Homo sapiens: one gene and its partners. The protein of the gene in region 1 interacts with the protein of each later gene in a pairwise test. Each region holds a gene or a part of one and is shown on either strand. Other genes may lie near its edges.

Region 1 (7,912 bases):
CATATTGTTTTCTTCAGGTATATTAACATTCTTTTTAACAAAAAGATTGTGCTTACATATACTGTTTTGTAATGTGCTTTTGTCTCCTAGCAATATGTGTTGGAGATTTTTCCATTTCATATAGATAAGTCTGTCTCATTTTTAATGGCAACATGGATTTCCGTGGTATTATTATCTCAGAAGTTATTTAATTCATTTCCTCCAGTCTTATTCTAGGTACCTCCCAAAGACAAACTTAGTGACATGAGCTCAAGTAGGCTACTAGGAGGTGACCTCAGGAAGCTTGAATAAGGGAATGGCAAATAAGACAGGAAAAGGAGGAAAACAAATCAAGGATGTTTGGCGAGTGGATATCTGCAGTATAGGGGGTCTTCAAAATCACCCTCAGGTCCAATGATTCACCACAGAACTTGGAAAAACTGTTATTCTCATGGTTACAGTTTATTACAGAAAAAGCATACAGACCAAAATCAGCAAAGTGAAAGATTGCTGCTATGGTCTGAATGTTTTGTTCCCCCAAAATTCTTATGTTGAATCCTAATCCCCATGTGGGAGGTGATTAGACCATGAAGGCTCTGTCCTCATGAATGGGGTTGGTGCCCTTATAACAGAAACCCAAGAGAACTGTCTTGCTGCTTCTATTGCATGAGAAGGCACCACCTATGAAGGAGAGCAAGCCCTCACCAGACACTGAATCTGCTGGTACCTTGATCTGGGACTTCCTAGCTTCTGGAACCATTAGGAAATAAATTCCTGTTGTTTATAAGCCTCCCTGTTTATGGTAATTTGTTATAGCAGCCCAGCAGACTAAGAAAGGGGAAAGAGTCCTCTTTGTCATAGGAAAAAGTCCAAGAGAGACCAGATGCAAGCTTCCAGTTGTTCTCCTCAACTGGAGTTATACGAGCAGTGCCTAATTCTCCTTGCAAGGATGTGTGACAACACACTTAGGGTATTGCCACCCAAGAAGACTCACCTGAGCCTTGGTGTCCAGCATAGTTAGAGGACGTTGGTCATATAGTCATGGCTGACCATCTGGGTAGCTGAGCCTCCTTGCAGAGGTAGCTTGCAGAGGTCCAGCTAATGTTGAGTGGCCCAAGGTCCTCACCATAAATCACAGTTAGCACAGACAAGCTGGCATGGCTCAGGCAGGAAGCTGCAGGTGCTTGAGGAAGGACACTATCTATAGAAACCATGAGTAGCCTCCAAGGTGGGCTGAGGGGTAGGCAGGGCACCAACAGCCCCAGCTACACTCCCTCAGGGACAGTCTTGCCATTTCCCGTTTTTCATTCTTATAAACAATGCCCTGGTGCAGGGGTCAGCAAACTTTTCTATAAGGAGTCAGATAATCTTTTTTTTTTTTTTGTATTCCCTTTTGGCAATTTGTTTAATTGAGATAAAATTCACATAACTTAAAACTCACCCTTTTGGTGTATACGATTCAGTGCTTTTTAGTATATTTTCAAGATTGTGCAACCAACACCACTATCTAATTCCAGAACATTTTTATCACCCCAAAAAGGAGCCCTGTGCCAATTAGCTATCACACCCCATTCCCTCTTTCCTCTATCCTTGATAACCACTAATGGTAATTTCTGTCTCTAAAGATCTGCCTATTCTGGACATTTCATATAAATGGATCATAATATATGACCTTAAAAACTTGGTACATAGGCCAGCCATGGTGACTTATGCCTGTAATCCCAGCATTTTGGAAGGCCGAGGTGGGCAGATCACCTGAGGTCAGGAGTTCAAGACCAGCCTGCCCAATGTGGCAAAACCCTGTCTCTACTAAAAATACAAAAATTAGCCAGGCATGGTGGTGGGCACCTGTACCCAGCTACTTGGGAGTCTGAGGCAGGAGAATCACTTGAGCCCGGGAGGCAGAGGTTGCAGTGAGCCGAGATCACGCCACTGCATCCCAGCCTGGGTGACAACAGTGAAATTACAACTCAAAAAAAAAAAAAAAAAAGAAAAGAAAAAAAAAACTTGGACATAAATGTTTACAGTAGCATTATCCATAATAATAGTCAAAATGTGGAAACAACCCAAATGTCCATCATCTGATGAACAGATAAGCAAAACATGGCATATCCATACAATGGAACGTTAGCTGGCCATAAAAAGTAGCACTACAACATGGATGAACCAGACAGATAGCAGATATGTGAGGCTTTGAGAGCCACATGGCCTCCAAATTATTCAGCTGCTGTGGTCTGAATAGTTGTCCCCCACCCTGCCAAATTTGTATGTTGAATTCCTAACCCACAAAGTGATGGCATTAGGAGGCGGGACCTTTGGGAGATGATTAGGTCATGAAGGTTGGAGCCCTCATAATTGGGATTAGTGCCCTTATAGAAGATGCCCCAGAGAACTAGCCTGTCCCTTCCACCATGTGGGGACTCAGTGAGAAGATACCACCTATGAGGAAGCAGCTTCTCACCAGACACCGAATTTGCCAGTGGCTTGATCTTGAACTTCCCAGCCTCCAGAACTGTGAGCAATAAGTTTTTGTTGTTTATAAGCCACCCAGTTTATGGCATTTTGTTACAGCGGCCTGAATGGACTAAGACATCAACTCTGCCCTTTTTGCACAAAAGCAGCATTATGTAAACAAATGGGTTTGACTGTGTTCCAATAAAACTTTATTTACAAAAACAGGTAGTAGTCCATATTTGACTGGGAGGCTCTAGTTTGCCCATTCCTGCTATATAAAATATCCTTGTATGTGTATTTTTGTCCATTTGTGCAGAAAATTCTATGGGATCAATTCCTAGAAGTGAAATTGCTGAGTCATGAGTTATGACATATTTATTTTGAACAGATGCTGTGAACCACCCCAAAATTTGAACCAACTTGCTTTTCCACCAGCGGCACATGAGAGTACGTGAGACTGAGATTTCCCCCACCTTTTTTTTTTTTTGAGACAAGCAAGGTCACTTTGCTACCCAGGCTAGAGCCAGTGCAGTGGCACCATCACTGCAGCCTTGACTTCCCTGGACTCAGGTGATCCTCCCACCTCAGCCTCCTGAGTAGCTGGGACTACAGGCACACACCACTATGTCTGGCTGATTTTTTGTATTTTTTAGTAAAGGCAGGGTTTTTCCATGTTGCCCAGACTAGTCTCAGACTCCTGGGCTCAAGCGATCCACCTGCCTCAGCCTCCCAAAGTGCTGGGATTACAGATGCGAGCCACCGTGCCCAGTCAGAATTTCCTTTCTTAAAGCCCTTTCACAAAGAAGTAGAACCCATACCCATTTAGAAGGGAAGTTTCTGCATTGTCATTCTTGAGCTTTGGAGAGGAAGAAGAAGATAGAACATTTTGCCCCCAAAGAAGAAAACTAAATGGGGCCTGAAGTGGTCTCATAATAGTATCTTATTTTAGATTTGAGGCTCACAGGGAAGGGGACTCTGGTAACTTGTCCTCATTTGGTGAGATCAAACCTTACACTGCCCACTAAGTGTCATTCCTAAAAGCCTTGAGTGTTACCTGTTCAATTATTTTTTCAAATGCAGAGAGCTCCTTAGCAATTTCATTTATTAAGCAAAGCTTCCATTCCTATTATTTCTCTTTGTAAGTAATTTGCATGTAAATGAGGTCCACCTATGCATACTGAGCATGTTACCAAATGTACAAAAAATATACATGGTCCAATTTTTCTCCACAGAGCTGACAGGTACCCATCCCTCTTGCTGAAGATGACATAGTATTTCACGTAGCCTAGTTTTCCCTAAGTCTTTTTGGCTTTTGGACGATGGATGGAGTTTTTGTTTTTATTTTTCCATTTTTCTTTTTTCTCCCTCATTTTCATCATTTGGAATTCGTGGTGTGAAACCCACAGGGGAGAACAGAGGCTCATTAGCATTCAAGCTCTGTTTTTGGCAGCATATTTTAGTTGCTTTATATGATATTCAGCATCCCTCCTGGGATCTAGCCTGCCTTTGCTCGGCTCACGCTGGGTGAATCTGTGATATTTCCCATTCTGTAGCCCTTCATTTATAACACAGGCATAGCCTGCTTTCCCATTAGTGAGATGGCATGCCTGGACTACCCACACACAGATCAAGAATTAGGCGGAACTTGGCCGGGAAGATAAATCAAGTTAACCGTCTCATTAGGCTTGAAAGACACAAATTAAGCTGAAGTTGGGATTAACAGAGAAGCCTTTCAAAGAGACATGCAGCACAACAAGGGGTGGAAGAAGTTGCCGTAGCCATTACTCTCAGAAAATTTCCAGCATTTGATGGAACAGAGGAAACATGAAGTCTCTTTTATAAAAGGTCAACAGACAGAAATTTAGGCTCAAAATAGCAGTATAACATTTGTTGAGCTCTTACCACCTGCTTGGCACTGTGTGCTGAGAGCTTTACACACATTATTTCATAGAAATTGCACATTGACCTATGAGAGAAGCACTACTAAAATTCCTGTTTAACTAATAAAGAAACTGAGGCTCAGAGAGGTTACTTCGCCTGCCTCAGAGACACAGAGCTTGGTCAAATGATAGAGCCAGGATTCACTCCCAGGATATTTGGTCCCATGGCCCATGGCTTAACCTAGTGGTTCCCGTTTGGGATGCATTGGCCTCCGCAGGGGCCATTTGGCCATGTCCGAAGACATTTGGGGTTGTCACAGCTGTAGAGAGAGCTGCTACCAGCTTCTAGTACGTAGGTACCCGGGATGCTGCTAAACTTCCTACAGTCCACAGGACAGTTACGGCAAAGGATTATCCCGCCCATAATGTCAACAGTTCCATGATTGAGAAACCCTGGTTTAATCGCTCAACTGGACTACATTGACAGGCTCACTGTTCCACTAGAACTATCCACTTACAGAGCTCTATATGCAGTGTGGTGATGCCGTGGGACATACGTTTAAGGCTGCATATTGCAGGCGGTGCAGCTGTCTGGCAGAAGGAACAGCCAATGCCAAGGCTGAGAGGTAAGAATCTGGCTGGCATGGGATGGCAGGAAACCAGGTGCAGCTGTTGCAGAGACTCACAGGAGGATGAGATGAGGGAGTTGGACTTCTCACCAAGAAAAGGAAAAAGACAGCGTGCCCTAAACGATGACCCCCATGTTTGCAGTTGACAAATGTGTAGACTAATGGCCTCTTGTCTTCTCCCTGCCTTCCTGTTCTGTTCCCCTCCTTCCTCTTGCCTCCCTCCTGCCCTCAACCCTCTGGCTCCCTAGTTTTCGGCCACAACATGAAGAGCAGCAATGACTTCATCGGGAGGATCGTCATTGGCCAGTACTCTTCAGGCCCCTCTGAGACCAACCACTGGAGGCGCATGCTCAACACGCACCGCACAGCCGTGGAGCAGTGGCATAGCCTGAGGTCCCGAGCTGAGTGTGACCGCGTGTCTCCTGCCTCCCTGGAGGTGACCTGAGGGCTGCAGGGAAGGCAGCTTTCATTTGTTTAAAAAAAAAAAAAAAAGACGGAAAAAAATGTGTCACATACTATTACATCCACACCTGCATACACACTCGCAACATGTCTACACACGTCCACACACACAGACACACAGATACCCCAAATCCTCTCAGAACTGAGAGGAAGCTGACTATTGATCACAAAATGGCCGCCCTCAGTTGAGTGAGGCCTAGGAACTTTCCGGAAGCCCCATCCATAGATCACAAGCTCAGTGGGCTCTGCCGTGGGACTTATTGGCAGTGCCTGCTCTTGTCAATACTCCTGCCCCAAAATGCACTTTCAACCCTCAGGCCAGAGAAAGGACCTCCCAAAGGGTGCCAAGCTCCATCAAGACTAAATTTACCAAGAGTTTGGCCAGTGTGTGGGAGACTTGAACACCCCCCACTTCCGAAACACACACCTACTGGGTAACTTCTGAACAGGCTGCTGTTCCCTGGGGTTCTTCAAACCTGATACCTTTCTCCAAAGGTGTAAGTATCTTTGTCTTCTCCGTAGTAAATGTGATAACTAGATTATGGGCCATTTGGAGAAACCAAATGGCAACCAAAACTATTCCAGTGTCAGAAGCCTTTCCTGGCTTAACAGAATTGTTCTTGTGTTAGCTCATCCCAGGGAACGCCCTGTGGGTATGTATGTGTATGTCCTCGTGCATGTGCCCTCACAGGCGAACACGTGTGTGCCTATGTGTCCTCTTGGAGAGCATGGCGATGGGCCAGGACCTCAGCCCTGAGCACTGCCTTCTCTCTGCCTCTCCTGTCCAGTGAGAGTCCAACCAGTGTCCTCCTGTCTGTCAGAGATCCCACTTTGGATAAAAGTAGTGTGTGTGTGTGTGTGTGTGTGTGTGTGTGTGTGTAAAGTAAATAGGATATGATAGAGCAAAAGTAACATTTTTTGACCGAATCATGGTGATTGTGACCCACGAAAGACATACAAAGACTTGATATATGGATTAAAATGGCTATCACACCCCATCCATGATGATCTTCTTCCTTAATCATACTCTGAGGATCTTTCTGTGTTTTTCTGTGAACGAATGTCACGTCTCTCGTGCTAAGGAATTAGTGTAGTTAGAATAGATCTCTCTCTCTCTCTCTTTCTCTCTCTCTCTTTCCTCTCTCTCTGTTGGATGCTTCTGTATCTTTTTCCACAGCATAATGTCTGGTGTGATGGGGAGCTATTTATTGAAATTAAAGATTATTTATTTGTGCCATGCATTCGAGTTATCTTTTTCTTCATGAACACAGGACATAGAAGGTGGGAGGGCATTGCAGCTAGTACTGCTGTGTAACAAACCATACTGAACAAGTCAAAACAATGATTTTTTTTTTTTTGAGACAAAGTCTCACTCTGTTGTCCAGGCTGGAGGGTAGTGGTGCAGTCTCTGCTCACTGCAACCTCTGCCTCCTGCATTCAAGCAATTCTCCTGCCTCAGCCTCCCGAGTGGCTGGGATTACAGGTGTGCACCACCACCCCTGGCTAATTTTTGTATTTTTAGTAGAGACAGAGTTTCACCATGTTGGCCAGGCTGGAATTGAACTCCTGGCCTCAAGTGATCCACCTGCCTCAGCCTCAGCCTCCCAAAGTGCTGGAATTACAGGCATGAGCCACTGCACCCAGCTTCAAAACAATGATATTTATTATACTGATAGATTTTGGGGGTCAAGAATGTTGAGTATTTGCAATATGTCTGTCTGACTTGAGCAGTGTACTAATGCCAATTATTCCAGTGTTGCTCTTCTATATAAAACTTTTCACTTCCTCAGGGCAAGATTCACGGCTTATTTAGCATTTTGTTGGCCAAGCCCTGCTAAGGGCATGACCCAGGTAACTGCTCCATGGGCTAAAATGGCTTCACCCCTCAGGCTACATTGGGTATTGCAGAGAGAACCTCATGGTGTCTCCCATTCTGGAGTGGAAGTGTTGTGGAGGTCAAGGGGGAGAAACAGGGAGGCTGGGTTAGGTTGATGTATTCATCCATTTTGCATTGCTGTAAAGGAGTACCTGAAACTGGGTAACTTATAAAGAGGTTTATTTGGCTCATGGTTCTGCAGGCTATACAGGAAGCACAGTGCTGGCATCTGTGTGGCTTCTGTTGAGGCCTCAGGAAGCTTACAATCATGGTAGAGGGCAAAGGGTGAACAGGCGTGTCACATGGCAAGAGAGGAAGTGAGAGAGGAAGAGAAGGAGGTGCCAGGCTCATTTAAACAACCAGCTCTAATAGAGTGAGAACTCACTCATCACCAAGCCGTTCATGAGGGATCCACCCCCATTACCCAAATACCTTCCACCAGGCCCCACCTCCAACATTGGAGATCACATTTCAACATGAGATCTGGAGGGGGAAACAACATCCAAACCATATCAGTTAAGTTCTCAGAAAAGGAGAAGTGTTTTCCTTCTCTATGAAATGGCTTCATTACTGTGGTTTACAGTAGAAGATAAAAGCATAAAAGAACAAACAAAATGAGTGAAGACAGGTAC
Region 2 (8,319 bases), on another chromosome or scaffold:
CTGCCTTGAGTTACTGAGGATGGCGATGTGATTCACTAAGAAAGGAAGGAGGGGTGTGTGCAGATGTTCAGGGGTGGTGCTGAGTTCAGGTAAAGTGTTGATAATCATGCTGAGTGAATTTCTGATTTGACATATATGCTACATATCACCTGGCCTAGTGCCTGTAAGTTATGTCATGCCAACTGATCTACCCTAGTAGTAAGTTTTACACATTCAAAAAAAAAGGTTGCCAAAAACTGACAACCTTAGAGTTATCCAGGTTATACTCCTACATTTTCTGTACCTTCTTGAGATCTGTTCTTACAGAAATTGTGCAAGTTATTATTTATGGTCGGTTAAGACATAATTTGATTGGCTTTTGAATTTTATAAAAATATTAGTACAATTTTAAAAATATTCCATATGGGTGGCCTCATGCAGAACTCGGCACAGTTCCTCAGATGCGATAAGTTGAAAAGGAGCATCTTGTTTCATACTAATTCTGGCTTTGCTGCCATTCCGCTCTGGGAAGTACCTTCAGAGACTTTACCACTTGCAGGGAGAAGTGGTGTCACACAGAAGTCCCATTTCTGTGACTTGATGTGTTGCCACTTTGCTTGGTCACCCATCTTTTTCTTCAGACTTAGCTCCAAATCACTTTTGCTTCTTTTTCAAAGCCAAGTATACTCTCGAAGGATGATGACATTGCTGTACTTGAGGAGATCTTCAAAAGTGTGGTATAGAAGTGTTAAAAAGTATTAAAAATAAACTTTAAAAATATTCAGGGGCAGCATCATGGAGTGATGCTCTTTCCAGGGATCCATTTTGAAGCACTTTTGTATATGTGTACAAAATTTGATATGTAGATTAAAATTTGATGTGTAAGTTTAAATGTTATTTTATAGTGTGCTTTGTAATAATTCCTTTAAATAAACATTTCATGTGCCACTAACATTTGATTTTGACTAATAAACACTAGGATGTATAACTTCTTGTTACTGATATTTTAAGGATTCAGTTATTCTAAATCCTTTATTAATTTTAAGCAAAATTGCTTATAAATGTTTTAGGAACAACTGGAAACCTCCAGGAGGGAAATGATTGGGCTTCAGGAAAGAGACAGACAGTTACAATGTAAGAACAGGAATTTGCATCAGCTACTAAAGAATGAGAAAGATGAGGTGAGTTGTCAGTTATTGCAGATGAAGTTTAAGTGAATTTTTGTTTTCTTTGTAATATGAGATGACCATAAGAGCCACTTTACTTGAAAAAAGAAAGAACCATTTATTCATCTTTCCCCAAATTGATATGGTGGACCTTTGTGTAATAGTATTTAACTGGAAGCTCAGGAACCCTCTCCACTACAGACCCCGCCCCCAGTGGATCCATTTGGCTTAGATATTAGTTCATAGCTGGTAACAGCCAGTGTCCTGGACTGCCCTTCCTGGACTCATGTTCACTGTCACTTTTTCTTAGGCACAAGAGTGCTTTAAATGCAGATCTTTTATTCTCTGCTGTACCTGTACGTGATAGCTGAGGTGCCCCTTCTTGCATGCACTGTCTTAAATATTGACATTGTTCGTCTAGTCAACCAGTTTCTTCATTAAATGGGCACAGAAGCAGTTCACATTAAAAATCTAATTTCTGACACAAAAGATACAATTCTGATTTCTGCTTTAGTGGTTACTTAGCAGAATTCTAATTTCTACTTTAGTGGTTACTTGGACCTATAGCACTAATGCATTTCAAAATATATTTTTTAATTTGTGTAGAAAGAAACTATTATGTTTTTATTGCTCTAAAGTATGACCCCTGACCATGTAATAACTATAAAAATATAATACTTAGTTTCAGTGTTTTATATGTTGTTTTAACTACAATTAAAGACTTCTGAGGAGTGTATTTCTTTAAAGCGCCCTGGAGTGGTTTAGATAGATTTGTTTTACCATATTTGTTTATTTAGTAGTATATTTAGTAAGTAGTAGGTAATTAGTATTTAAACTGTAAGGTTGCTTGTACGTGTTTCCTTGAGTTCACAGACAATTTTGACTAGATCTGTTGATTATATTTAAACGGTTTGAATACAGCTCATCTTCGGTAGGGATTAAGTTAATCATGTTGATCCCTAGCAGGGACTGGGAATGGCTTTATAAAAGAATAGGACATACTCTGTCAGGAGTTGCCTGAGAAACTATAATAGATCTAAATTTTGAACAGCAGTGTCTGGCACCTAGTAGATACTCAGCAAATATTTGGACTGGATTATTCTGCTGTTTGGACTTACTCTTACTCGAGAATTGTTTTTAATTAGAAAAACGAGCCTGCTTACCTGCTGCCATGTGTCACAGGCTTAATTCACTTTGTCACAGATTAATAAAAAGTATAAGTGATTGTAAGTCAGTAATACAAGGAGTTCACTAAAAATGATCAGATGAATTCTGTTTATCTCAGATGAAGTTTTAATCGTTTTAATACTTCCATAAGAATATCTGGTTTTTAAATGATCAGAGTCTATATGTAAGGTAAAAGGTATAGGAGATAATTTAGAAAATTAGCGCTTCTGGAAATTTCAGAATTAAAAAAACTTTATGTGATTCATATAATATTTAAAAAAGTGGTTTCTACTGGTTACAAATAAGGAAGAATCATCCTAGGATTTTAAAACCTATATGGGGAGATGAATTTTAGGATTTTTCTCTTTCAAATTTGTGAATCGTTACTGGGCTTATAATAGCAAATGCCTTTTTCAGGTGCAAAAATTACAAAATATCATTGCAAGTCGAGCTACTCAGTATAATCATGATATGAAGAGAAAAGAGCGTGAATATAATAAACTGAAGGAACGTCTACATCAACTTGTTATGAACAAGAAAGATAAGAAAATAGGTAAACAGCTGGCAAAGATCAGCTAAGAGAATAAATAAGCTAATACTATGCTTAGAAATAATTGTAAAAGGATTGAACACAGTAACTCACGAAATGTTATTTTCATGCTTTATACAATTGATTTTCAGTGGTGTTTGTTTATATAAAAAATGTAGACAACTGGTTAGTGGAAAGTAAGTCATTCTGCCTTGCTTTATTTAATTGCATGTATTTTTTAACATGACCAGTGTAGAATTAATCCATAGAGGAAAACTAAGCCAGAGGACATTCTAATTTTCCATAGCAAAGAACTGATAATATTAAAAATCAGTGTCAGTTTCTGAGTATCAAAAGAAGTATTTTAGAGTAAACCTCATAAAATTTTTCATCAGACCAAATCGTTCATGTCAGTTTGAGTTCCTTTAAATAAGTTTAGCTGTACATTTTTGGAGCAGCTAGTCAAAAGGATGGACTATAAAAGTTAGGCGTGTGTGTGTCTAAGGTATACTTTTTTCCTAATAGTAGTCTTTTTCAAAACTTTAAGCCATTTCATCCAAATATGTGGATAATTTCAAGTAGATAGTGTAAATTAAAAAGCAAAGAAACACGAAAGTAGAGCTTTACAATACAGTTTTGCTGGCCTGGTATAAATACGAGGCACAAGAAGTGTGTGTATTTATTTATTGAAGAGTGGTTTCCTAGTGACTATAGGTAGTCCTCTAACATACATTATACCGTGACACCCCTAAACTGTCTTACCTTAGATTTGAAAAACAGGCGATGAGCGTACGTTTCAGGCTGTCATGTGGTAGACTCTGCCTGCTGTCAGCAAGCAGTTTAGTGTTGACTACATCACTGTCATTCTGCAGCAGAGCTGTTGGAGGTATCTGAATACTTTATTTTTTAAATTGTTGAAAAATAGAAATGAAGATTCAGTAATGCGCCGTTAAGATTGGAAATCTTTAGGTATCCTGAGTTAATCTTACTCATTTGGAGAATCATTGGTTTTTAAGTTTAGTTAGCCTCATATTCATTCATGAAGGAAAAAAATTAAAAAGCAGGATGAAATGCTGAAAGTATAAAGTGTAACACAGAGAAGTTTATTAAGGATTTAGTTCTGGAAACAGAGCTCTTCCATTATAGCGGTCTGGCTGTTTCCTGGTCCAATCGGAAGTGACAGTTTCATAATGATTTTATTAACTCTAAGATTATAATAATTTACTCTTTTTCCTTTTTACGCCAAATGTTTCCATGTCCACCTGCAGCAGAAGATATTACTACTATCAGGGGCTTTGACTCCTTTGATGAAAATGATGATGTTAATGTTAACAGGACATGGCAAACTTTTTCTGTATAGATCCATATAGTAAACATTTTCAGCTTTATGGGATCTACAACTTATTTGTTGCACCTACTTATCTCTGCCATTGTAACAAGAAAAGTAGCCATAGGCAGTATATAAACAAGTAGATGTGGCTGTGTTCCCATAAAGCTTTATTTACAAAATCAGGCAGCCAGCCTGTGGGCCATTATCAGGCAACCCTGATAATGAAATTAATAATGATAAGGTAACATTTATTAAGTACTTACTGTGCGCCAGATACTGTGTTCACTCTACTGTGTTGGGTGCTTTAATAGTTATTTCTTTGTCTTCTCAACAACTCTTTGGTAGATACTTTTGTTATTCCCAGTGTCCAAGAAGAAACAGGCTAAGCAGTTAAATAATGTGCCGAGATCTCATTGCTTACAAGTGGTGGAACTAGAAACTCGAAAATTAGGCTGTTTAAGCCCAAATCCTAACCTATATACCAGGTTCACTTTCACCACTTACGTGTATAGAATGCATTAGAGTTTTAGATGCTTAAGCATGTATGGTAAGAATTAATTTTATGTGTTCATGTTTGTAGCTATGGACATTTTGAATTATGTCGGGAGAGCTGATGGAAAAAGAGGCTCCTGGAGGACTGGTAAAACTGAAGCCAGGTAAAGTCCAGTTTAAATTGATAAATGTAATCAGACTTCCTTCTATCCTGCATTTTCATACTGACAGTTTCTTTCTCAGGAATGAAGATGAAATGTATAAAATTCTCTTGAATGATTATGAATATCGTCAGAAACAAATCCTAATGGAAAATGCAGAACTTAAGAAGGTTCTTCAACAAATGAAAAAGGAAATGATTTCTCTTCTTTCTCCCCAAAAGAAGAAACCTAGAGAAAGAGTAGATGATAGTACAGGAACTGTAAGTGGCTCTTTCCTCTCTAATACAGTCTTCAGATTGCTAATAAGAATAATTAAAATATGTGGTAGGCATTCTCAATGGGGACACTATTGGTATTTTGAATAGGACACTCAACTGCTATGCTACTTTCAATTACTGTGACAACTGAAAAGACTGTTCCTATGTGTTTTCAGACATTTCCTGAAAAATGCTGGAGATGATTTTCCGGGGAATTAATACATGTCAAGCACTGTTAAGAAGTGCTTTATAAGCATTGTCTCATTTTATAATATTCCTCATAACATATGAGATTATTTCATATATTATAATTTGATGATTTAGATACTATAAATATCCCCATTTTATAGATAAGGAAACTAAGGCATAATATTTAGTAGCCCAGTATCACACATGACAGTGCTAGGATTTGAATCCAAGTTTCTCACTCCAGAGCTCACAATCATAACCACTATGTCAAATATCCTTTCAGTTGTTTTAGTATTATGTACTCTACTTTTCACAGAGTGAAACTTCTGTTAACTTTGGGAAACAAATATAAATTTATTGGGTGTTCTTTATGTTCTAGTCTCTGGAAAGGAAAGGCTAAAAAGATTTTGACTTTTTCCCTCAAGAAGCTCTTTTTGGGAAAGACAGACGTGGAGAAGTGATTATTACATGTGTTAGGTGCTGTAATAAGGTGGTACAATGTGCAGAACAGAATAGTTATGGCAATCAAGGCATCACAGAGAAAGTGACATTTTCACTGCTTCTTAGAAAATAAGTATTTTTGAGGTTAAAAAAAAAAACATGGAGAAAGCATTCCAGAGAATGGGAGTAATATATGCAGAGATCTGAAAAAAAAATCACATAATGGTGAAAAGTTCATTTTACTTAATTGCTTTACGTATAAGTTAAAATCGTAGGTTTCAGCAAGTTCACATTAGTGATAAAAATCTGAAAATAATGTTGATGGAAAATGCTAGTTAACAGCAAGATACCAGAACTTGTTTTTTAAACCTGTATTTGAGGATTATTTATTTTGTGGTATCACAAATCAGTCCAGCTGATAAGCCCATCCCAGCACTTACCTTTTTTTCTCCTTAACATTTAAAAAAAAAAATTACCTAAATTTTTTTTTTTTTTTTTTTTTTAAGAGACGGAGTCTTGCTCTGTTGCCAGGCTGGAGCGCAGTGGCACAATCTCGACTCGCTGCAACCTCTGCCTCCCGAGTTCAAGTGATTCCTCTGCCTCAACCTCCTGAGTAGCTGGGACTATAGGCAGCCGCCACCATGCCCGGCTAATTTTTTTTTTTTTTTTTTTTTTGTATTTTAGTAGAGACGGGGTTTTACCATGTTAGCCAGGATGGTCTCAATCTCCTGACCTCGTGATCCGCCTGCCTCAGCCTCCCAAAGTGCTAGGATTACAGGCGTCAGCCACTGCGTCTGGCCTTTTTGAGAGAGAGTTTTGCTCTTGTTGCCCAGGCTGGAGTCCAGTGGCACCATCTCACCTCACTGCAATCTCTGCCTCTCGGGTTCAAGCAATTCTCCTGCCTCAGCCTCCAGAGTAGCTGGGATTACAGGCATGCACCACCACCCACGGCCAATTTTGTATTTTTAGTAGAGACGGGGTTTCTCCATGTTGGTCAGGCTGGTCTCAAATTCCCGAATATCTTTTACATTCTCCATTTTGAGGCCTGCTTGACCTCTTATATGTAGTTAACCTCTTATCTCAAACTCTGTCACTTCTAGTCAGTTCTTAGCATTCACTAATACTTCTTCAAGGTTAGCATAGTGTCCATTACTACTGCAGCATCTTCAGTTTTTGGTCCAACCTTAACGTCTCATCATCAGATTTCAGTTAGCAAAAGTATGTGGTAAGTCAGGGAGATCTTTCTTCAGTGATTAAACCCTCCTCACCCCCATTACTCAGCCAGTGGGTAGTATCCTGTATAATTCTTCATAATTCACATGTTTAAGTGGATGAACAATGACCTCTTAAATATATATTCTAGTTTTAAAAGATCCATTTTTCTAGCTCCCTTTTCTCTTTAATTTTTGTAGGGAAAGATTTTTGAAGCATTATAGCAAGAGAAATAAGATGTAATGTTGGAATGCCTAGGTAGCATCCACATTTCATTTATTATTTGACCTACTTACTTGTAAAACATATACCGAAAATTCAGGTAAAATGAGTTTGTTGTTTTGTTTTTTGGTTTTTTAGAGGCAGGGTCTTGTTGCCCAGGCTGGTCTCGAACTCCTGGGCTTAAACAGTCATCCCACCTTGGCCTCACAAAGTGTTGGGATTACAGACATGAGCCACTGTGCCCAGCCGAATTTTTTATTTTCATTTTGTGGTTAGAGAGTTCTGTTCAATCTGAGAAATGTGCAATAATTATTCATTTTTCTTTCTTTTTTTTTTTTTTGAGATGGAGTCTCACTCTGTCGCCAGGCTAGAGTGCTGTGGTGACATCTCAGCTCACTGCAACCTCTGCCTCCCGGGTTCAAGTGATTCTCCTGCCTCAGCCTCCTGAGTAGCTGGAAGTACAGGCATGCACCACCACGCCCAACTAATTTTTGTATTTTTAGTAGAGACAGGGTTTCACCATGTTGGACAGGATGGTTTCGATCTCTTGACCTCATGATCCACCCACCTCTGCCTCCCAAAGTGCTGGGATTACATACAGGCATGAGCCACCGCGCCCGGCCAATAATTTTTCTAACAGATTGGTAGTATTCTAATAGGCTTTAAAATGTTCAGAAGAGAAGCTGTGCTTCCTTGGAAGAGTTACTGGCAAGTAGCTTTTGAGTATTGGCAGGGGCTAGAATCACCATGAGCCGGATCCTGGGCCATTCCCCTGTCTGCTCCGCCTCAGAGACCCTGACCTCTGCTAGCCCATTGCTGACCTCAACTACTGATAGAGTTCTTCAGACTCAGTTGCTCCCTCATCCTGCTGATCTCCATGTGCGAGCAGTCGAATCAGCCCTTCTTTCTTTTCATCTTTTATCTTTCTTTTTTCCCCAGCAAGATTTTTATTGTTCAAATTAGTGAAGTATATCTCTCTGCCTTCCTGAATATTAATGACAAATTAGAACTACTTTATGTAGATGTGGGTTATTATGACATATATCCCTTTTAGTATTGTTTCCCCATGTTCTTTATCCTGCTTTGATTCTGTGTGATCATATATCAGTAAAGTTTGCTACTTCTTTATGATTTCATGTTTGGCAGAATACAAAGAAAAGTATCTCCCGTTATA
Region 3 (8,319 bases), on another chromosome or scaffold:
ACCTTGCAGACATGAGACTCAAGTTGAGAACTAGAAAATGAGAAAGGCTGATGTATGTGAAGAGCCCAAGGAGGAGAATTCCAGGCAGGGGAAGCAGCAGCAAGTGCAGAGTCTCCTGGATGGGTCAAGACTTCGTATGTTCACCCACCAGGAAAGAGATGAGTGTGTCTGTCCCTGGGACATGGCGGGACAAGGTGAGGAGTCCGCATTGTACTCTAACACAGTGGGAAGACTGGAAGGGTTCCCATTAGGAAGTGCTATGACCTGGACGCTTCAGATGTGTCTGATGAACAGACTGGGGAAAGACATTGGGAGGCTCCTTCAAGGCCCAGGTGAGAGGAGATGGAGGTGAGAGGAGATGGATGAGAACCATAAACAGATTCATTTAGCACCGATGCACTGATACTGTCAATAGCCTCCAGCGGTGTCATAGGCTTGAAGGCAACACATATCGTGCACACATCTGTAGATCGCCTACTACATGCCAGGCCTTGTATTTTCCTTCTGTTTGTTTCGGCTCCCTAATGTTCCTATTTAATATTAATATTTTCAGTTTGTAAATGAAGAAACCTCAGAGAGATTGATTTTCAAATCAAACTCCTGCCGATGCCACAGCTGATGGTCTGGTCTGTACAGCCCTGCAGGTACAGCTGCTCGGCAATGTGTATTGCATGGCAAAAAAAGGAGGAGCTGAGCATATTGCGCAGAGCACGGGAGGGTCTTTTGGCCCAAAATGACACCCCTGCATGTGGACCAGAGTAGTATTTTCGCCCCATAGGAACTAGAGGTGTTAGCTAAGCTAGGGATGGATGACCTAGGGGGATGAAAACACATTTTGTCAGTGTCAAGTTTATATCAGCAGAGCCACCCTGTGCTCCTAAGTCACACCTCGCAGGAATGGGAGGCAGAAAGGTTGCATTTAGAAGGAAAGGATTAGCTCTGGAAAGTGAGTTTGGACATTGAGGCTCCCCAGATCCATAGGGATGATGGATGTTGGCAAGGACAATGGTCACAATATAAGTAACAGATACCGATAACACTGCCTAGCATTTATTGAGTGCCCACTATGTACTAAGTATTGAGTAAATGTTCCAGAGCTGTTATCTTATGGTGGTATTTCTTAAATTTCTCATAACGATCCTATGAGGTAGGCTGCTTCACTGTATTTCCTCGAGTATACAAAGCCATCAATTCAATAAAAGCTTTTCACATCAAAACATATTAAACTTACACAACGAAGTTTTGTTGTGTCATGCTTTTCCTAACAAAATATAGAACATATTCATAACATAACCTCTTTATTCTTCAGGATGATAACGCAAGTTTGAATCGAAGCCTAGATATTCAGAGTCACAGAGTCTCCATGCACAACTGCTAATTGTAAAAAATATATATATAATAAAATTAAAATTAAAAAACAGAGTCAGAAAGTTTCTGGCTCCCTTTCAGCTGTGCCCATGCAGTTCTCCATGTCCCACCTGGGATTTCTTTAGCCCCTTTAGGATGGATGGTATAATTTAGAGCTCAGCGAAGAACAGAGGCTCCTTCCACATCTCCTGTTTTATTAAACTTGTGGCTTTCCCCTTCTTAATTGGATATCTGTCTTTTGACTAAGAAATACTTCACAGTGCATGACAATCACCAACCTTTCCTAGCTTTGAAAATTGTGTGATCTAAACTTAGAGATTTGCCTGAATCTGCACATGTGCTGGCACTGACATCCCAATTTCTCCTGTCTGGTGACTGACAAGGTTGTTATTGTTTAAGCATTGATTATTAGATGCTATCCTATTACTTTAAAAAAAAAATGTGCCCAGTCCGGTGGCTCACGCCTATAATCCCGGCACTTTGGGAGGCCTAGGCAGGTGGATCACCTGAGGTCAGGAGTTCGAGACCAGCCTGGCCAACATGGGAAAACCCCATCTCTACTAAAAATACAAAGATTAGCCAGCCAGTCATGGTGGTGCTCACCTGTAATCCCAGCTATGTGGGAGACTGAGGTGGGAGAATCATTTGAACCCGCGAGGTGGAGGTTGCAGTGAGCCAAGATCATGCCACTGCACTCCAGCCTGGGCAACAGAGTGAGACTCTATCTCAAAAAAAAAAAAAAAAAAAGTTTAAGGGTGTCTTAGAATTAGTTTGTAACACTGAAGGTTAAAGATATTAAACAGTTTACCTTCCATGTCATAGCTGGCAGGTGATGTAACTAGAATGCACACCAAGTCGGCTGGGTACTTCTCAACATTAAGGCTGTAATGACTTTCTCCTTCTTTCTCTCTTGAATCTTCTCAATGAGGCCTTCCTTCCACCATTCCTCCAAAACTGCTCTTGTCAAGGTTACCAAAGATCTCCACATGGCCAAATGCATTGACTAATTCTCAATTGTTATCTTACTTTCAGCAGCACTTGACAACTTTTTTTTTTGAGACAGGAACTCAGTCTGTTGCCCAGGCTGGAGTGCAGTGGCGTGATCTCAGCTCACTGCAACCTCCGCCTCCTGGGTTCAAGCTATTCTCATGCCTCAGCTTCCTCAGTAGCTGGGACTACAGGTGCGTGCCACCATGCCCAATTTGCCTGGCTAATTTTTTATATTTTTAGTAGAGACGGGGTTCCACCATGTTAGCCAGGCTGGTTTCAAACCCTTGACCTCAAGTGATCTGCCCACCTTGGCCTCCCAAAGTGCTGGGATTACAGGCTTGAGCCATTGCGCCTGGCCATTTGACACCATTTTTAGGAAACAATTTCTTGACTTGGCTTTCTTAGGTCTTCTATATCGACATCACCCTGAAAACCTTCTCTGCTGCTCTTTTTCACTTCTCCTAACCTGCCTGACCTCCAGATGCCGAGTGCTCCATGTTAACCATCCTCAGGCCTCTCTTGTCTTTCTGCATCCGCTCTTTGGTGACCCCATCTAGTCTCATAGCCACTTCCACACTCCCAGCTCTGACAAGTGCATCTGCAGCTCCCAGCAGCTGCCCACTCACCCTCCTGCCTACTCTCCATCACTCCCTGGATGCCAAATAGGCTTTGCAAACTGAATGTCTTCAACCAAACTCCTCTCTTTGGCATTGTCCCTGACTCCTCTCTTTCGCTCACTCCCTACATCTGATCCTTTAGCAAGTCCTGTCAGCTCAACCTCAAAATTACATTGAAAACTGTTTTTTAGAGACAGGGTCTCACTGTGTTGCCCAGGCTGGTCTTGAACTCCTGGCCTCAAGTGATCCTCCTGCCTTGGCCTCCCAAAATGCTGGGATTACAGACGTGAGCCACCACCACATCTAAATCCACAACTACCACCCTAGACTATTAGCCTGTAATTGGCCACCACTTCTATCCCCCGTCTCCTCAATAAGCTTCTTCCCCACCCGGAAGCCAGAGTGACCTTCCCCAACCTAAGGCAGATCAAGGTGTCAGCTGCTTAAAGCCATCCAGGGGCTCCTTGTCTCAACCCAAGCAAAGCCAGAGCTCTTTGAGCTGCACAGCCTCCTTGTTCTCTGATGTCTGCTGGCTCCTGGTTTCTGTTTCTCCTTCCCAGCCTTGCTAATTGTTCTCCAGCCAGGCTGCTTCCCATGTGGGTCTCACACAGCCAAGCCCCCTCTGCCTCAGGGACTCAGGCTTTTATACTTGGGGTTTCTTCTGGTACCCCTCTCCCCCTAGATTTTCATATGACTTGCACCTCATTTTCTTTTCTTCTTCTTCTTTTTTTTTTTTTTTTTTTTTTTTGAGTCAGGCCCAGGCTGGAGTGCAGTGGCACAATTGTGGCTCACTGCAGCCTTGATCCCCGGGGCTCAGACGATTCTCCCACCTCACCCTCCCAAGTAGCTGGGATTACAGGTGTGCACCACTACGCCCGGCTAATTTTTGTATTTTTAGTAGAAATGGGGTTTCTCTAAGTTGCACAGGCTGGTCTCGAACTCCTGGACTCAAGCAATCTGCCCACCTCAGCCTCCCAGAGTGCTGGGATTACAGGTGTGAACCATCATGCCTGGCTGCCCCCTCATTTTCTTGAAGCCTTTTAAAATGCTACCCTAACAAAAGAAGACCTTCCTGCATAAAACAGCCACCTCCCAGAATTCTGTTCTGTCCTCTCTGCTCCAGTTTCCCCCGCAGCACTGGTACCCGCAGCACTGGTACCCGCAGCACTGGTACCACTTGCTATAGTATACATTGGTTTGCTTCTGGCCTCTCCACACCACTGTAACCCTAAGTTCCAGGAATGCAGGGACTGTGACTGTTTTAGTCACTTGCTGGGTCCCGAGTGTTTAGAGTAGAGGCTTGCATGAAGTGGGCTCCCAGTGAATGTTTGTTGAATTATCAGACAAAGGAAGAAGGAACGGAGCACCCGGTGGTGGAGACAGTGCTGGGCTCTGACATGTGTTTCTCTACTGCCCAGATCTGGAAGTCGGAATCAGCACTGTGCTGTGACCACTCCCACCCACGCTGACTTCTGTCTTGTGTCTTCTTCCAGGTCTACGGCTCTCGCAGGCTCTGTGAGGGCTTTGCTATGACCTCAGTCCCCTCACGGAGCCACGACTGCCCCTTGCTGCCACAGCCTTTCCAAGACCCTGCCCGGCCCTGCCCCATCCTCAGCCCCGAGTCACCATGGGCAGCGTCAGTAGCCTCATCTCCGGCCACAGCTTCCACAGCAAGCACTGCCGGGCTTCGCAGTACAAGCTGCGCAAGTCCTCCCACCTCAAGAAGCTCAACCGGTATTCCGACGGGCTGCTGAGGTTTGGCTTCTCCCAGGACTCCGGTCACGGCAAGTCCAGCTCCAAAATGGGCAAGAGCGAAGACTTCTTCTACATCAAGGTCAGCCAGAAAGCCCGGGGCTCCCATCACCCAGATTACACGGCACTGTCCAGCGGGGATTTAGGGGGCCAGGCTGGGGTGGACTTTGACCCGTCCACACCCCCCAAGCTCATGCCCTTCTCCAATCAGCTAGAAATGGTAAGCGGGGGTCGCTGGCAAGGGTAAGTGGGTTGGAAACGCAGGAGAAAGCAAAATGGGGGTGGAGAGCCTGGGGGTTCAGGGGGAGTGGTGACCTGAGCATTCAGACTCCTCAAAACCAGAGCGGCAGGGGTGCCGGCGGAAGCCTGTGGCCACACCGCAGAGATCAAACGTTTCACAAAGGAATTAGAGCATCGCTCAGTCCCCCTGAAGCAGAAGTCTTGGGTCAGGCCATAAGCAAAGAGCACAGGGGATATGTGAGCTTTCTGGAGTCCCACTGAAATGTAGCTGGATTGTCAACGTAGGATCCAGGCGTTTGCCAAGCCTCGGGAAGGAGAGGGAGCCCTGTTCTCATCTGGAAGCACAGATGAAGAGGATGCAGGCCGGGAGTTAACCGCTTCTCTCCCCGGGAGACTCGTGGGGGTGGGTGCGGTCTTCTCATTTGCTGCCCTGGTGTGCATTAGCTCCTTGTTCAAGCTGCGCCTGGGGGCATCTTTGAATACAGGCTGGAGTTTTGTCATCCATTTACCAGAGATTAGGGCAAAGGAGGCCCAGGCACTGAGAAATCCAGCCCTCACACCAGCTCAAGCCCTCGTGCGTCCCACGAGTGGACACTGAAATCAATTTTCCTATTCAGTCCTCTGCCCCTTGCCCTGGGGAAATGAATCCCCGGCTTTGATTTACTAGGAAAGAGCCTCTTATGTTTGCATAGAGCATTCAGCTTTTCAAATTAAGGGGCTTGTAAACTGTGAAGCACTCTACCAGGGAAAATTACAGTTTTAAAAAAGGATCGTGATTTGGAGTGAGCCTCCCAACCCTGTAAGGAGGCCAGGTCCGTGTCCTTGCTCCAGGCTTAATGGAAGAGGCAGTGAACAGGAAGAAGGGATGGACCTAAAGAGGGACAGCAAGCTCGGCCAGCCTGATGCCCTAACTTGCCCCACACAGAGACCTAGAGCAGGAGCCTCAAGATGGTATTTATCACCTCGGGAGGGCTGGGGCAAGCTGGTGGCAGGTTGCTATTTCATAGAACAAAGTGCCCAAGTCGCCATTAGGGTTTTTCCTTCCTAAGAGAGATGACATTCAGCTGCTTCAAAGCAACAGGCAAGGTCTGCTGAGACAATTGACCAAGAGGGGTGCTGCGTGCGCTCAGAGAGCCCAGACTGGCTCAAGGTCGGCACGCGTGCCTGGGGAGGGAGGGTGCAATGCGCGCGCAGGGGAGGCATGAGTCACCGCGGTCCTTTTCCTCTACAGGGCTCCGAGAAGGGTGCAGTGAGGCCCACAGCCTTCAAGCCTGTGCTGCCACGGTCAGGAGCCATCCTGCACTCCTCCCCGGAGAGTGCCAGCCACCAGCTGCACCCCGCCCCTCCAGACAAGCCCAAGGAGCAGGAGCTGAAGCCTGGCCTGTGCTCTGGGGCGCTGTCAGACTCCGGCCGGAACTCCATGTCCAGCCTGCCCACACACAGCACCAGCAGCAGCTACCAGCTGGACCCGCTGGTCACACCCGTGGGACCCACAAGCCGTTTTGGGGGCTCCGCCCACAACATCACCCAGGGCATCGTCCTCCAGGACAGCAACATGATGAGCCTGAAGGCTCTGTCCTTCTCCGACGGAGGTAGCAAGCTGGGCCACTCGAACAAGGCAGACAAGGGCCCCTCGTGTGTCCGCTCCCCCATCTCCACGGACGAGTGCAGCATCCAGGAGCTGGAGCAGAAGCTGTTGGAGAGGGAGGGCGCCCTCCAGAAGCTGCAGCGCAGCTTTGAGGAGAAGGAGCTTGCCTCCAGCCTGGCCTACGAGGAGCGGCCGCGGCGCTGCAGGGACGAGCTGGAGGGCCCGGAGCCCAAAGGCGGCAACAAGCTCAAGCAGGCCTCGCAGAAGAGCCAGCGCGCGCAGCAGGTCCTGCACCTGCAGGTACTGCAGCTTCAGCAGGAGAAGCGGCAGCTCCGGCAGGAGCTCGAGAGCCTCATGAAGGAGCAGGACCTGCTGGAGACCAAGCTCAGGTCCTACGAGAGGGAGAAGACCAGCTTCGGCCCCGCGCTGGAGGAGACCCAGTGGGAGGTGAGGCCACACAGGGCTCATGGGTTTGGGTGGTCAGCGGTTTGGCGCCAGTACCCCCCTCTCCTTCTGGTGCCGGCCAATAGCGTGCAAACACAGACCGCGCAGGCAAGCGGGGCTAATGTGCTGGCTTTATCACCCAAAGAAGGGGCTCCCTGCAAACCATGTTGGGGGATCGACTTACATCTGAGCTTCCTCCTGTCCCCACCATCACCCTCATGGCTCCTAGATTTCAGTTTCCCAAGTGAGCCATTAAATCATGAAGCCGGAAGCCAGATGACCAAGGCCCAGCCAGGCTGTGGGCTGACCTCCCTTCCATCAGCTCCCAGGAGGCTCAGAAGAAGAACAAGCCGTGCCTGAGTTCAGGCGGGGCCAGGGGCCCAAGAGAGCACAGAATGCATTTGTTGCTTTGGAGGGAGGGACTGCACCCACTAGTAAGAGGGACCCTATTGGTGGCAGGTTTCAGTGATGGAAGTGGCCACTCCTTGCTGAAGTGTAAGTGGAACTTCTATTTGGTGAGCTGAGATGGAAACCTAGGAGAGGAAGTAAAGAGTCCCCCACTCACACACTTACACACTCACACACACTCACTCACCCGGTCACACGTGGAAATGAGGCATCTGTACCTGACCGTGCTGGAGAACCCCATAACCTCTGCATCTATTAGTGGGAAAGCAGCTTTTCTCACCAGCCTGGTGGTCTGGATGACTCATGGAGTTCAAGCCCATCGTTGAGGCTCTTTACATGCTCGCACCCAGCTTGGTCTGTCCACGTGCCTGCCTCACCCCCAGTTCAGAGTCCAACTCTCAGTCTACACGCAAACCCCTGGCTATGTGCAAGTCAACAACCAGTGGTTTAACTTGCCCACTGCTGGCAGCTGTATCACCCCCATTTAACACCAATGGTATTGGTTTTGGTGTCAGCCTGATTTCCGTCATCGACGTTTATGCCCACATCCTCTGACCTCACCCCTGCATGCACCCAGCCCTCCTCTCTCCTGTCTACTGGAGTAAAGACTACCTCACAAATTCACTGCTGTACCCAGTGACTAGTATCATGCTGGCTTGGATGCAGAGCCCAATCCACATCTGTCAAACGAGGAATCATTGTCTTCTCCTCTTGCTCTTCTTCTCTATTTCCACCCCTATCCCCCATCAAAATTTGGCCAAGAGCAATGATGAAAACCGAAGCCACAGGTTAGACCCATGTGTCTCTGGATCTTGGCCATCTGGGGTCATGGGAGACCAAGGCCAGTCTGGCTGAATCTTAAGAGTGAATGAAGTCCAGAGCATGTGGCTCTACAGAATGGATTCTTGGAAC

The links. The genes of interacting proteins can lie anywhere in the genome.
Region 2: the proteins of SYT17 (region 1) and SSX2IP interact in binary tests that used the Homo sapiens proteins (3 or more experiments, as listed by UniProt).
Region 3: the proteins of SYT17 (region 1) and LZTS1 interact in binary tests that used the Homo sapiens proteins (3 or more experiments, as listed by UniProt).

What each region holds. Positions count from the first base shown.
Region 1 is NC_000016.10:19,261,690-19,269,601, forward strand, and holds the end of SYT17 (synaptotagmin-17), read left to right. Parts: intron 1-5,190; coding exon 5,191-5,387; 3' UTR 5,388-6,643; downstream 6,644-7,912. UniProt on the Homo sapiens protein: Plays a role in dendrite formation by melanocytes.
Region 2 is NC_000001.11:84,658,963-84,667,281, reverse strand, and holds part of SSX2IP (afadin- and alpha-actinin-binding protein), read left to right. Parts: intron 1-1,049; coding exon 1,050-1,160; intron 1,161-2,729; coding exon 2,730-2,865; intron 2,866-4,751; coding exon 4,752-4,827; intron 4,828-4,906; coding exon 4,907-5,084; intron 5,085-8,319. UniProt on the Homo sapiens protein: Belongs to an adhesion system, which plays a role in the organization of homotypic, interneuronal and heterotypic cell-cell adherens junctions (AJs).
Region 3 is NC_000008.11:20,251,465-20,259,783, reverse strand, and holds part of LZTS1 (leucine zipper putative tumor suppressor 1), read left to right. Parts: intron 1-4,468; 5' UTR 4,469-4,602; coding exon 4,603-4,947; intron 4,948-6,198; coding exon 6,199-7,002; intron 7,003-8,319. UniProt on the Homo sapiens protein: Involved in the regulation of cell growth. May stabilize the active CDC2-cyclin B1 complex and thereby contribute to the regulation of the cell cycle and the prevention of uncontrolled cell proliferation. May act as a tumor suppressor.